2 linked regions of the Homo sapiens genome follow. The protein of the gene in region 2 interacts with the protein of the main gene of each other region in a pairwise test. Each region holds a gene or a part of one and is shown on either strand. Other genes may lie near its edges.

Evidence for each region.
Region 1: the proteins of HSD17B14 (region 2) and NEK6 interact in binary tests that used the Homo sapiens proteins (3 or more experiments, as listed by UniProt).

Annotation. Positions count from the first base shown.
Region 1 is NC_000009.12:124,344,929-124,351,948, reverse strand, and holds part of NEK6 (serine/threonine-protein kinase Nek6), read right to left. Parts: exon of another isoform or gene 4,247-7,020; intron 4,241-4,246; coding exon 4,127-4,240; intron 1,113-4,126; coding exon 1,002-1,112; 3' UTR 1-1,001. UniProt on the Homo sapiens protein: Protein kinase which plays an important role in mitotic cell cycle progression. Required for chromosome segregation at metaphase-anaphase transition, robust mitotic spindle formation and cytokinesis.
Region 2 is NC_000019.10:48,833,476-48,840,982, forward strand, and holds the start of HSD17B14 (L-fucose dehydrogenase), read right to left. Parts: upstream 3,017-7,507; 5' UTR 2,937-3,016; coding exon 2,849-2,936; intron 2,369-2,848; coding exon 2,330-2,368; intron 884-2,329; coding exon 801-883; intron 1-800. Other genes in the region: PLEKHA4 (pleckstrin homology domain-containing family A member 4), read right to left, coding at 3,814-4,076, 4,542-4,654, 5,730-5,788. UniProt on the Homo sapiens protein: Catalyzes the NAD(+)-dependent oxidation of L-fucose, yielding L-fucono-1,5-lactone, which rapidly converts spontaneously to L-fucone-1,4-lactone. Can also act on D-arabinose and L-galactose, with lower catalytic efficiency. Does not use NADPH.

The DNA.
Region 1 (7,020 bases), on a different chromosome or scaffold from region 2:
TTTGTGAAGGGTGAGTGGCTACCATTTTTGGATCATCTACTTTTTGTATTAGCTAACTTGCATATTTTATTTCAAATTCTGTCTGTCAGCAATCCTGAAGGTAGATGATAGGTACTATTAATCTCATTGTACAGATGAGGAAATGAAGGCTCAGAACGGCTAAGAAACTTGCCCAAGCCCAAAGTCACGCTAGGAAGTTGCAGAACCAGAATTTGTAAAGGACAGCCCTTCGCTTTTCTATATCCCATGCTTCCTTCCCATGGAGGAAAATGCTTAACACTGATCATGAAATGAACCGCCAGCATTCAAGGAGGTGACGAAGTTCCTGGTACACAGCAGGTGTCCAGGAGAAGATGGCCCAGCCTGGCTGCCAAGAAGATGCTCCTGCTTCCCGATGCCTTTTGCCTGTGACACTCTGGCCAGGTGCAGGGCTCTCATCGTCACTCACCAAGTTATAAAACGTAGATAAAAATGTTAGCAGAATCACCACTCCACGGAAAAAAATGATTTCCACTTTATCCCTTTACAACAGAGTAAATTAAGCACACAGCTTGATTGAAAAGATACTAAGAACTAAACTGAACCCGGTACTAACCATTTTCAAAGGCTCACTACACAAATCACACGGTCTCCTGCAAGTCTCCTGTTAGCATAAGCCTTGACAGGTCACTGGAGGAATTACCCTAAAGATTCACATTACAATCCAGATACAGGGGGCTGCCGTGGCTCGCTGAACCACCTGCCCTTATTGACCCAGCTGAGATTGTCCACAACAGTATAAAGAAAGGACTTTGGAATCTGACCATCAGTGACATGTGGCCAGCGCCCCTCCCTCAGCTGCTCTGCCTTCAGCATCTGCTGTAAGGCTGGGCAGCCTTTTGGGGAACCTGCTGAACCCTGTGGTCTTAGCTGTTCTAGGCTACCAGGTGGCCACTCGAAGAGAAGACGACTCAAGTAAGGCAAAGTGGTGCTGGCTTTGATAAGGCACGGTGCATCCACGCTCAGGTGCTGGACATCCAGATGTGCATCTGCTTGGCCACCTGGTGCACGTATCCGATGTCAGGTCTCTGGTGGGGGTCAGGGCAGATGCACATGCTGACCAGTTCTCGTAACTGCAGGGGAGAGAATGGTGTGTTATTCTCAAGAAAGCAGTCTTACTGAGGCTCCGCACTCCACAGTCTGTCTGCATGAAGGCACTTCATCCTCAGAGCAACTAGATGGTCCCGTTGTCCCCGTTAGAGCTGAAGAACGGTGTTTAGCTGGGGCAAGTAAGGGGTGCGCAGCCGCATGGCTCCCAAGGGCTAGCCAGTACCCCTCCCAGGCCTGTCTAGTCCCAAAGGCTGTGCTTTGAGACCCTAAGAATGGTTAACCTCCAAATTATTTTGAACTTGTAGCTGTCCACACCATTGGGCAAATTGTGTGTGTGTGTGTGTGTGTGTGTGTGTGTCTGCTGTCAGTCACGCAGATGCCCAAACCAGAGGACAAAACTCAAGGCAAGGGCTTATTGATCATAATAAACGCATTAACATGCAGCAGGGCTGCAGTCTGCCCACCCCCGGCCCCTTTATTGTGCTCATGAAAGACGGAGCTTTTAATTATACAGACACTGAAGGCTGCTCCCGCCCCGAGGTGGGGGAGGGGCGCCTTGCGCCTCTGATCGCCTCCATTCTTCTGATAGCCGGAGTGCCAATTATTTTAATGGTAATTAAAATAATGACCTTAAAATGCCTACATCTTACCCTGCATCACGGGCTCACAGCCATTGGTTTCCATTTAAATACCTGCTGCTGGAGGGGTGGTCAGCCCCGCAGGCCACAGCAGCCGAAGCAGCAGCAGCAGCAGGAAGCTGGGTGGTCCTGAACCAGAGGGGGCTCTGGTGGTCTCAGTGGCCACACTCACTCAGGGACTGGGAAGGGCCCACGGGACGTTCTGGAGGCCCGGGGGCTACTGCTGCGCAGGCCCGTTAGGCTGAGGGATGGGGCCTGGGCTTCCTGTAGACTAGGGCTCCTCTCAGCTGATGGGGCATTTTCTCCCTGGGCCACAGAGCCTTAGGGTATCCCCTCGCACCTGCGTGCATGCCTTACAACCGAGAAGCCCAGGTGACACAGGGCCTGCAGCCTGCTAGGCCACTCCCGGAGTCTGAAGTCGCCTGTGGACAAGACAGCTGTTTTCTGAACCTTACAATATTCGGGGGAAGGTACCTGTGGTTGGCCTCTGACAGGTTAAAATACCCAAGAAAACCAGATTCAGGTGAAGTGTCTGTGACCCGAACTAATTTATGAAGTAAACGCACAGTTGTCAATAAGTGCATGTTTGAAGTTTTCAGAATTCAAGAGAAAAATAATAAAAGTGTCTTATTTTCATTTCTAAGCAGCGATATAACTTTAAAATAGGGTGTGCTGGGGGCTCCTGAGCACCACCTCTCACTCCTAAGCATGGGGCCCGGCGAGAGCCAGTGCTCCGGGGAGTGGGGGCTCGTGGCCAGGAAAGGGCTGACTTGGGACAGGGGCTTCAATGTTCATTTCAGCCTCATCACTGAAGTAGAGAGGGCGACTCCCATTTCTAGACTGACAGCCAAAGCACAGAGTTGTCACCAGCTCCAGTTGCACAGCTTCAAGCTTCTGAATCATACACAAGTCCGAATTCAGAAGATGAGAAAGGAAAAAAGCAAATGGCAACTATTAACTTTGTAAAGAGATGCAACTTGTTTTTCCTCCCACTGGGGAGGAGAAATACTTCCTCCAAAAGTGCAGGTCAGAACTTGGGAGCCAGGAGAGGAAGGGCACTGTGCAGCGCCCGACACTCGAGCTCCTCTAGCCCTGGAGTCTGCAACGCCAGCAAGCACAGGCTCAGCACAGGTGCCCTGCGAGGAGCCTCCGGCCTGGACACAAGCGCAGCACCCAGGACCTGCCCTGTGCAGTTTGGCCGGGGCAAGGGCACTCCTTCCAGAGCCTCACCCCAGCTAATTGATGGGCCACCAAAGACATGCCATCAAGAAGCACGATGGCTCCGTGGCTGCGCATGTGGGTTCAGATCCTGCCTCACCGGTCTTTTTAACTTGCCTGTGTCTGTCTGTTCCTTATTGGTAAATGGGTGAGGGGAAGATTCAACTCAGGAAGTCTGAACATGAGCTGTTATTATCGTGAGGTGACGGCCTGTGGTCCTATGGGGTGGGCCCACGGAGGCCCCAGACTCACCCACTAGCGTTGACCTTGAACAGAAATAAGGGTCACATGATATTTAGTGAACACTGACTGAGCCAGGCCCCATCCATTGGCCACTTTGGATGGTGGTGGCAGTGTTAGCCTGGTGCCTTACCTTAATCCTTATGCTGATCCTGTGTGGAAGATTTAATATTATCCCCATTGTATAGGTGAGGAAACTGAGACTCAGGGAGGTTAGGTGACTCACCTAGGAACAGTGCAGAGAGTGTGTGAACATGTATCTACACTTTTGACCCTGCTGTGCCAGGAAACCTGTCCTTTCTTCCTCACCATTATCCACCAAGGAGATTATTAGTCCCATCTTCAAGGTGACGGAGCCGAGGAATAAGATATTCACACATTCCTAGTAACTGGTACAGCCCCATGCCAGACCCATGGGAGCTGTGTCCACGGCTCCCGCAGCCAGTGTAAAATGTTGACAGTAGAAGCCCAGGGTGTTAAGTCTGTTATATAAGGAGGAAACTGACCGGTCCTCCTGCCGTAGTTTCCTGTCATGGGAGCAGAGTGGCCACCACTGGTGGTATGGGGACGCCAGGCCTGCCACATCCTGCCCCTGTATCAGTTCCCATGTCTGGCACGGCACAGACCCTGTCCTGGGGACCTGCAGCAGAGGGCCTCCCACTGGAGCACCAAGTTGGGAGCTGAACAGGTGGAGATGTGCCAAGGGCCACGTGCCACTGGTTCCTACCTGGGGGTCCCACACTGGAGCTGCGTGGTGAAACCCCTTCTTCAGTGCAATCACCTACTTTCCCCTCTCCAAGTCACTTTTCCAGAAAGCTCCCTTTCTGCACCGTGTAAAGTGAGCCTAACCTCAGCCCCACAGCTGTGGTGTTTTGGAGCGGCCCTCATAAGCCTCGGTGGCCTCCTGGGGCTGGCGAGGCCTCCGGCTCCTGCAAACTCACCTTCTCGGAGTAGTGCTCCCCGGGGAGTGGGGGGTAGTCACACTGCTCGATCTTCTGGCACAGGGAGAAGAGATTCATCTTATCTCCATAGAAGGGGCTCTGGAGGGCTGCCATCTGCAAGGGACGGGAACAACGAAGATAAGCTTTCGGCCTCAAGGCTCAGAAGGACTAGAGAGGAGGAGGCTGCTCCAGATTGTTGGGGCATGGGTTCTCTCTGGTCCCGACCGCGGCGAGTCCAGCAGGACTTCTCCCCCGAATCACCGAGCATGCTGGGGTTCAACAGAGGAGCAGGCGCAACACTACCCTGATTCTGTCACTGGATTAAGTGGGCACGAGGGTTTCGGTGACAAAACTTTCAAGGCAATAAAGAAGGGCAGCTGGACGCTGCAAGCTAATTCCCACCTTGCTCCCACCTCAGCCCGGGGGACCCAGGCTCCATGTGGCAGGTTGCCGAGTGCATGGTCTTATTTCCATAAAACGCGATTTTTCCAAGATGCCTGCAGGGGCAGGTCTCTGTGCCCCACATGTTCAGAGAGCTTTCCTTACCTATGGACTGACATTTTGGGGTGGGGTGGGCCGGAGAAGGGTGAGGCATTTCACTGTGGCTGTTCTTGCCAGCCCCTCGCAGAGCTGCTGCCTGTGGAAGCCAGCTGCCGGTATCAGGGCAGGGGGAGCAGGGGGTTCAGGAGGGAGGGAGGCAGCCTCCTGCCCCTGGATAGAGGTGCGCAGCAGCATGTTGGAGGGAACCTTCAGGGTGGGAGGGAAGCGCCTGGCTCCACAGCCAGCCCTAGCTCTGTCCCGACCCCAGCTCTGCACTCGCTGTGTCTCTGGACTTCAGTTTCCTCATTTGTAAAATGTCCCCACCCACAGGCCTGTGGCGAGGCTTGGGCTGGCACACGGAGGAGGCACCACCAGCAGGGCCAAGACCGCCTTTGATGAGGTGAGGCCTGCGGCACCGGTTCTGCCCTGAAGGCCGGCCACAGCCACGGGGGAGCGAAAGGCCTGTGGGGCGGTGGCCTCCTGTGAGTTCTCAGCTGTCAGGGTGCTGCCAGGCTGCCCCACCACTCAGGGCACTCACAGGGGACTCCTCAAGGGGGTGTGCAGGGGCCACAGTGGCCCTGAGGCGGTGGCGCAGCAGCCCAGCGTGGCACCTGCTGGCCCCATTATGAACCCATAATGGGAAAGAGCTTCTCGTCACTCCAGCTCACTGTGGCTGCCTGCCTCCCGGACCGCCCCCCGAGGCCCAATGCCTCCGGCTAGTGAAGTGCCGTCGGGCGAGTGCCCTCCTGCTGTCTGGCCCCGGTTCCCCCCCGGAGGGGCCACCCTGCTCTGGCTTCTTGGCCAAGGGCTCCTGGGCGCCTACCGAGGGGCCCTGGGATACCTGGGGAACCGTCGCTTGTCCTCGCGCCCCAGAGGCTGAGCGGGGAGGAGTCCTTGGTAGCAGGGTTTGAGGGTGCCCGTCAGCTTGGGTTTCCTGGTCTTGCCCCATTCTGTGTTCGTCCATGAACAGGTCTGGTGACCCCAAGGGCCTGCCTCCTTCAGGAGGGCGTGGAGGAGCTTCAGAGCCTGGCACCATCCTTGGGTTTGCAGATGGCCTTTGGGGAAGCTGCTGAGTGCAGCCTGGAGACTGTGGGCTTTCCTCAGCCCCAGGTTCAGCACCCTCGGGACCAGGAGCCCAGGCCAGGCCAAGTGCCTTCAGGTGGGTGTTTAGGGACAGCATCACCTCTGTCTTCCGGCTGGCTGGGAGCTTGGGCCCCTCAGAGAAGGGCTGGGAACCCATGTGGAGCCTGAAACCCACCCTTGGAGGAGGGCTGCAGGGAGGGTCTGGCCAGGCAGGGGAAGTGTGAGGATGCAGAGGCCCTGCCCATTTTGGGGTCTGCTGACCTGACCAGGAGCGGGCTGGGAGCCTGCCAAATGCACCACCCAGGTGACGCATGTCCAGGAATTAAAATGAGACTCTCGGGTGCAAAGGGTTAATCGGGCATTTTCAAAGGACATCTGTTGCCATAACAGAGAGCAGCTGAGACTCCAGGACGGTCACCTGGGGTGATCTGGGTGCCCCCGAGTTGCAGCTGGAGGATTAAGGTGGATTTTCCTGGACTGTTACTGTGCAGCGTAGAAGGGACATTTTGAGTGTTGGTCCTGTGAACGCAGGCCCTGGTTTTTCATGTGGCTGACCCCGGAGAGGAATCAGCCGATCTTCAACTTCAGATCATGCCCATTTGATCTCAATTTTATAAACCTCGCTGCTGGGAACTCCAAAGGCCCCAGAACGCTGAGGGGAGCATTGAGCCCCCAAGCTGGCATCCACTTCCCATCATGTCTCTGCTCTTTCCAGCACTTTCTCCACATCGTTTCAGAAAAGCCTTTTGAATGGGGTCAGCAGTGAGCTATGCCAGAGGACCCCTCTCGGCCTTCCCCAGGAACAGGCCTCCTCCATCCGCCCCAGCCTGCCCCCACTCTGCTGCCGGCCATGGGCCTTCCACCCTCATCAGGGCAATGGGCTGTGAAGAAAGCTCTGGGCTGCGCGGATTACAACGATTACCCTGGACGGCGAGATCTCCTTCTACCAGTGACCACCCAGACTCTGACTGGTCGAAATAGAGAGGACTCACTGTCTGGGGCCTCGTTAGAACTGCCGAGGCCACGGCTCTCAGCGCTGCTCCTCAAATGCCAAGCCCTTCTCTCTGGTGTCATCAGGGTGACATATAGCCGAGGAAAAGGGGGTGGGTGGGCCCTGGCCCCCACCAGGAGGGCTCAGAGAAGCTGGTGTGTGATCTGAGATGTCAGAGGGACAAGGGGAATCTGACTCCTGCCTGTCAGGGCCTCAGACACCCATCTTGTCACCCAGTGTCTCTCGAGCACATCCCAGACAGAAGGGTGACTGGAGGCCA
Region 2 (7,507 bases):
GAGGTCAGGAGTTCGAGACCAGCCTGGCCAACATGGTGAAACCCTGTCTCTACTAAAACTACAAAAATTAGCCAGACACGGTGGCTCATGCTTGTAATCCCAGCACTTTGGGAGGCTGAGGCGGGCGGATCATCTGAGGTTGGGAGTTCGAGACCAGCCTGACCAACATGGAGAAACACCGTCTCTACTAAAAATACAAAATTAGCCAGGTGTGGTGGCACATGCCTGAAATCTCAGCTACTCGGGAGGCTGAGAGAGGAGAATCACTTGAAGCTGGGAGGCAGAGGTTGCGGTGAGCCGAGATCACACCATTGCACTCCAGCCTGGGCAACAGGAGCGAAACTCTGTCTTAAAAAAAAAAAAAATTAGCCGGGCATGGTGGCGCACACCTGTAATCCCAGCTACTCGGGAGGCTGAGATAGGAGAATGGCTTGAACTCGGTAGGCTGAGGTTGCAGTGAGCCGAGATCACACCACTGCACTCCAGCCTCAGTGACACTTACAAAAAAAAGAGACAGAAAAATCAGTTCCAGTTGACCCACTTTGAGGGACTTATTCATTTCCATCCACATGTTAAATGTGCTAAGAGCCTTGGAGAGGTGTGACAGAAGGAACATGTGACCTGCCCATCAGTCACAGAAGACCTTGTGTGTGGAGTGACACTGGGTGGAAACCTTTGACGAGTCCAGCGGAGCCAGGAGAGGAAGGAAAAGTAGAGGGAAAGGCATATGCAAATGGCTGGAGGAGAACAAAGAACTGGTCATTAGCGGAGATGGGGGTAGGAACAGGAACTCGGCTTACCTTCACATCATCTTCCTGAGTCACATCACAGAGGATAAAGACAGCTCCAGGGAGCTCCTGCTCCAGGGCCCGGCCCCCAGACTCTGCAGGGAGAGAAGAGCTGGGAGCCTGGACCCCTGGGTCTCAGGGAGGAGGGGTTGGGGACTTGGACTCCTGGGTCTGAGGGAGGAGGTGCTGGGGGCCTGGACTCCTGGGTCTGAGGGAGGAGGGGCTGAGGTCTGGACTCCTGGGTCTGAGGAAGTAGGGCCTGGGGGCCTGGACTCCTGGGTCTGAGGGAGGAAGGGCTGGGAGCCTGGACTCCTGGGTCCGAGGAAGTAGGGCCTGGGGGCCTGGACTCCTGGGTCTGAGGGAGGAAGGGCTGGGAGCCTGGACTCCTGGGTCCGAGGAAGTAGGGCCTGGGGGCCTGGACTCCTGGGTCTGAGGGAGGAAGGGCTGGGAGCCTGGACTCCTGGGTCTGAGGGAGGAGGGGCTGGGAGCCTGGACTCCTGGGTCTGAGGGAGGAGGGGCTGGGAGCCTGGACTCCTGGGTCTGAGGGAGGAGGGGCTGGGGGCCTGGACTCCTGGGTCTGAGGGAGGAGGGGCTGAGGTCTGGACTCCTGGGTCCGAGGAAGTAGGGCCTGGGGGCCTGGACTCCTGGGTCTGAGGGAGGAAGGGCTGGGAGCCTGGACTCCTGGGTCTGAGGGAGGAGGGGCTGGGGGCCTGGACTCCTGGGTCTGAGGGAGGAGGGGCTGAGGTCTGGACTCCTGGGTCCGAGGAAGTAGGGCCTGGGGGCCTGGACTCCTGGGTCTGAGGGAGGAGGTGCTGGGAGCCTGGACTCCTGGGTCTGAGGGAGGAGGGGCTGGGGGCCTGGACTCCTGGGTCTGAGGGAGGAGGGGCTGAGGTCTGGACTCCTGGGTCCGAGGAAGTAGGGCCTGGGGGCCTGGACTCCTGGGTCTGAGGGAGGAGGTGCTGGGAGCCTGGACTCCTGGGTCTGAGGGAGGAGGGGCTGGGGGCCTGGACTCCTGGGTCTGAGGGAGGAGGGGATGGGGGCCTGGACTCCTGGGTCTGAGGGAGGAGGGGCTGGGAGCCTGGACTCCTGGGTCTGAGGGAGGAGGGGCTGAGGTCTGGACTCCTGGGTCTGAGAAAGTAGGGCCTGGGGGCCTGGACTCCTGGGTCTGAGGGAGGAGGTGCCAGAGCCTGGACTCCTGGGTCTGAGGGAAGAGGGGCTGGGAGCCTGGACCCCTGGGTCTGAAGGAGGAGGGGTTGGGGACTTGGATTCCTGGGTCTGAGGGAGGAGGTGCCGGAGCCTGGACTTCTGGGTCTGAGGGAGGAGGGGCTGGGGACCTGGACTCCTGGGTCTGAGGGCAGAGGGGCTGGGGGCCTGGACTCCTAGGTCTGAGGGAGGAGGGGCTGAGGTCTGGACTCCTGGGTCTGAGGAAGTAGGGCCTGGGGGCCTGGACTCCGGGGTCTGAGGGAGGAGGTGCTAGGGGTCTGGACCTCTGGGTCTGAGGGAGGAAGGGCCAAGGTGAGGGCTGAGGGACCGTCACTCACCATCCTTGTCGCAGATAACCACTCGGGCCCCGCTGTTCACTGAGAATAGGAAGGGAACAGGTTACTCTCCGAGCCTTGGTTAAAGCCTCTGCCGCCCTCTTGTGGCCACCTGGATTGGGGCTGATCTCCCTCTCCCCTCGTGACCCCAGTCTCATGATCACCCATAGGACAGAGGGCAGACGCCTTGACACATACTCTCCTTGCCTTGTTTCTGCTGAGGCTCCTGAACCCCCGTTCGTGGCTTCCGGAGCAAACTCCACGACTGACAGAGCCATTCCTCAAACCACTGGTTTTGTAGCTACACCAACAGACCCAGAGAAAGGGGCCACTGCCTTCGGAGACCCTGCCAGACTCAGCCCTAGCCTACAGCGCCACACGCTTACTTTAGCCTGCAAATTGGCTTTTATAATATCAGAATCCTGGCTGCAGTACTGGAGTCCCTATTTTCCGCCCCCATCACCCCGCCCCCATCCTTCCTTTCTCACACTCCACAGCTCCCAGCAGTCAGACCCGGCTCACCGAAGGCGCGCACGATCCCAGCTCCGATGCCGCGCCCGCCCCCGGTCACGACCACCACCTTCCCGGCATAGCGCGTTCCCGTAGCCATCCCGTGTACGTCGGTCTCTCTCTCTCTCTACTCTGGGCCTCTTTCACCTCCAAAGCCCCGTGAGGCCGTCGCATCAAATCCTCAATAGAGGCTGGATCCTGGAAGTCCGGCCTCGGGGGGCGTTGCCAGGAAGGCTAGAGACCTGGAAGTTTGTCCCCAGCCCCTCCTCCCTCAGACACTCCTCTCTTCCCACAGACCCAGGAATCCAGGAGCCCCAGTCCCTCCTCCCACAGACCCAGGAATCCAGAAGCCTCAGTCCCTCCTCCCTCAGACTCGGGAGTCCAGGCCCCCAGCCCCTCCTCCCTCAGACTCGGGAGTCCAGCCTCCCAGCCCCTCCTCCCTCAGACCCGGGAGTCCAGCCTCCCAGCCCCTCCTCCCTCAGACCCAGGAGTCAGGGTCCCAGCCCCTCCTCCCTCAGACCCGGGAGTCCAGCCTCCCAGTCCCTCCTCCCTCAGACCCAGGAGTCAGGGTCCCACCCCTTCCTCCCTCAGACCCGGGAATCCTGGCCCAGCCCCCTCCACTCTCAGACCGAGGGATCAGGTTCTCTATCCCTTCTTCCCAGAGACCTATAAGTCCAAGCCCCCTGTCCCTTCCTCTCTCAGGACCCAGGAGTCCACGACTCCAGCTCTGCCCCTCAGAGACACCAGTGCCACAACCCCAGACAGACAGAAAGAAAGCTATTGACTAAAAGTTCAAAGTTTTAATCCAAATTTAGACAGTGTTGAGAAAACCAAACTTTGGCCATAGAAACCATTCCCCTCCCGGGCCCGCAATGGGGACCAGACCACGCCCCCTGATGCCCTGAGTGGTCCCAGATCTCCGGCGGTACCTCCAGACCACGTCCTCGCGCTCCGATTGGCTGCCGCTTTTGGGCGGATTAGAAGCTGGATTGTAGCAGAGTGACTCGCAGAGGCCATGCCCCCTCGTCTTGTGGCAGGACCGGAGGGGCGATCCCGGCATCCCACGCGGGCCCCCAGGGGGTGGGACCTCCTCCACGCCCACTCCCTCGGCGAGAGAACCCCGTGGAACCCGAATTAGCCACCGGGGGAGATCTGGGGGGAGGGGTCTCCTGGCGCGTGGGGTCCGAAGGAGGCAGCGGCACACCGGGAAGAGGGTCTCCCTGGGAGTCCAAATTTCCACCTGGAGAGGATGAGTGGGACATGAGAATGGCAAACCTCAGCGCTAGGACCCCGGATTCCCAGCCCCTCCTCCCTCAGACCCAGGACTCCGGATTCCCAGCCCCTCCTCCATCAGACCCAGGAGTCCAGGCCCCCAGCCCCTCCTCCCTCAGACCCAGGAGTCCAGGCCCCCAGCCCCTCCTCCCTCAGATCCAGGAGTCTGGATACGCCAGTCCAGTCCTCTTTGAGACTCAGTTGTCGGCCCTCTCCCCGCCCCCTGACCTCTTCCTCCCCTCCTCCCAAGTGTCCCGGACCCCAGTCACCTCTTGCCTGAGACCTAAAACTCCCAAACCCTGCCCAACTCTTTACTCACCAAGATAAAAAATTCTCACCGGCCCCCAGACCCCTCCTCTCCAGGACCTGGGATTCCAGGTCTCCAGCTCTCTCCTCCCTAAAACCCAGAAGTCCAACATCCCCAGCCAGTCACCTGTCATCATTCTGTGCCACTGCGACGCCTCAGTAGCCAGGGCTTGGGAGAGGCTGAGAACCCGCTCCCGGTGACCTTCGGAAGTCGGCAAGTAAGGGGTGGTGTTCCTTGGACTAGAAAAAAAAAGAAGATTGGGGGTGGGGGTGTGTACATGGGGGAGAGGTGGGGGATGGTTAATTGGTACAAAAAGAAAAGGATGAATAAGACCTACTATTAGATAGCACAACAGAATGACTATAGTCAATAATAATTTAATTGTACATTTTTAAATAAATTAAAGGGTGTAACTAGATTGTTTATACATCAAAGGGTAAATCCTTGAAAGGGGATGGATACCCTATTCCCGATGATGTGCTTATTTCACATTGCCTGCCTGTATCAAAACATCTCAATTATCTCGTAAATATATGTATACCTAGTATGTACCAACAAAAATTAAAAATTAAAAAAAAAAAAAAAAAAGCAGGCCAGGTGCGACAGCTTATCCCTGTAATCCCAGCACCTTGGGAGGCCGAGGCGGGCGGATCACTTGAGGTCAGGAGTTCGAGACCACCCTGGCCAACATGGTGAAACCCAGTCTCTACCAAAAAATACAAAAAAGTTAGCCAGGCATGGTGGTGGGTGCCTGTAATTCCAGCTACTAGGGAGGCTGAGGAAGGAGAATCATTTGAACCCAGAAGGCGGAGGTTGCAGTGAACTGAGATCACGCCATTGCACTCCAGCCTGGGAGACAGAGCAAGACTCCGTCTCAAAAAAAAAAAAAAAGTAAAAAATAAAAATAAAAATAAAAAATAAACAGCTGGCACAGTGGGGACCCGGGTACCGCACGTGCCTTTCTGGGAGTTGTAGTTCCTAGCACGTGTCTCTAAAATACGTTAAACATGGCACCGCCCTCATACCGCCCACATGCATTACGGGATTTGTAGTCCACTCGCGCGTCACTATCACCCAATTTCCTTGATGCAGAAGTAGGATCTGCTATTGACCAAGGGAATTTGAGGAACTAAAGATATCACTACGGATCTAGGGCTTTCTGGTTTTGTTGCAGATGCCCCGGGAACTTAAGCATCTCTAGAAGGGTTGCGATTTGTACTTCCATATTCAGGAGACTTTAATAATAATGCTACTCCCCTTTGCTTTTGCAAATTTTTTTTTCCTGCTCCCTTGATACGCCCTCCAGTTCCTTACCTACTCCAGGACCCAGAGCTTCTGAGCCATTTCTGGGCTCCCGAGTGTCCTACGACAGGCTGGAAAGGAATTGGGGCATTAGAACTCCTCACCTGGAAGCCCCACGTTCTCATTTTGAGGGTGAAGTGAAGGGGGCTCCAAAAGAGAATGAAATTGCCCAAAAACACTGGCAATGTTTTGTTTTGTTTTTCCTATGCTTCTGTAGGCACTGAATTTTTAAAAATTAATTTATTTTATTTATTCATTTTTTAGAAAGGATGGAGTACAGTGGTGTGATCATAACTCACTGTAGTCTCGACTTCCCAGGCTTGGACTAATCCTGCTTCAGCCTCCTGAGTAAATAGAACTACAGGCTCGCACCACCATGCCTGGCTAATTATTTTTATTTTTATTTTTAGTAGAGACAGAGTCTTGCTATGTTGCCCAGGCTGGTCTCTTACTCCTGCCTCGGCCTCCCAAAGTACTGGTATTACAGGGGTGAGCCATAGCACCCAGTGACTGACAATGTTTAACTTTACCTGTGTTCCTATAAAGCAGCACATGAGTTCAGAAATCCCACCTCCACCACCACCACCTGTGACTTGTCTAAATCCTTTCTATAAAAGTCTAAGGGGCCGGGTCTGGTGGCTCACACCTGTAATCCCAGCACTTTGGGAGGCCGAGGTGAGCAGATCACTTGAGGTCAGGAGTTTAAGAACAGCCTGGTCAATATGGTGTAAACCCCGTCTCTACTAAAAATACAAAAAAAAAAAAATTAGCAGGGTGTGGTGGCATGGGCCTGTAATCCCAGCCACTTGGGAGGCTAAGGCAGGAGAATCGTTTGAACCTGGGAGACAGGGGTCGCAGTGAGTCGAGATTCCACCACTATACTCCATCATGGGCAACAAAGGGAGACTCTGTCTCAAAAAAAGAAAAAAAAAATCTAAGGGGAGGTTAGGTGCAGTAGCTCACACCTATATTCTTAGCACCTCCTTCCAAGGCAGGAGGATCACTTGAGCTCAGGAGCTCGACACCAGCCTGGCCAACGTGGTAAAAATCTGTCTCTACTAAAAATACAAAAATTGGCTGGATGTAGTGGCATATCCCTGTAGTCCTAGCTACTCGGGAGGCTGAGGCATGAAAATCACTTGAACCCAGGAGGTGGAGGTTGCAGTGAGTGGAGATCGCACCACTGCACTCTAGCCTGGGCGACCTTGTCCCTGAAAAAAAAAGAAAACATCTTTTTTTTTTTTTTTTTTGAGACAGAGTTTCACTCTTGTTGCTCAAGCTGGAGTGCAATGGCAAAATCTTAGCTCACCACAACCTCCACCTCCTGGGTTCAAGCGATTCTCCTGCCTCAGCCTCCCAAGGAGCTGGGATTACAGACATGTGCTACCATGCCCAGCTAATTTTCTATTTTTAGTAGAGACGGGGTTTCTCCATGTTGGTCAGGCTGGTCTTGAACTCCCGACCTCAGGTGATCCGCCCTCCTTGGCCTCCCAAATTGCTGGGATTACAGGCGTGAGCCACCATGCCCGGCCGAAAAAGGAAAACGTCTAAGGGGAAACCATCCTGAGATATCTGAGACACTCTGATGTTCAGATCTGGGACGTTCTTCCTATTGAAAGGGCATGAATAAAATCAATTTTCTTCCTGGCTTACATTTTCTTTTTTGCTTTCTTGCTATTGACAACACATAGCAACTGAGAAGAAAAACTAGGCTTCCAATCCAGATGTGTGACCCCCGCCCCCACCCACTGTCCTCCCCTCACTGCCACTCCTGTCCACCCACCACTATC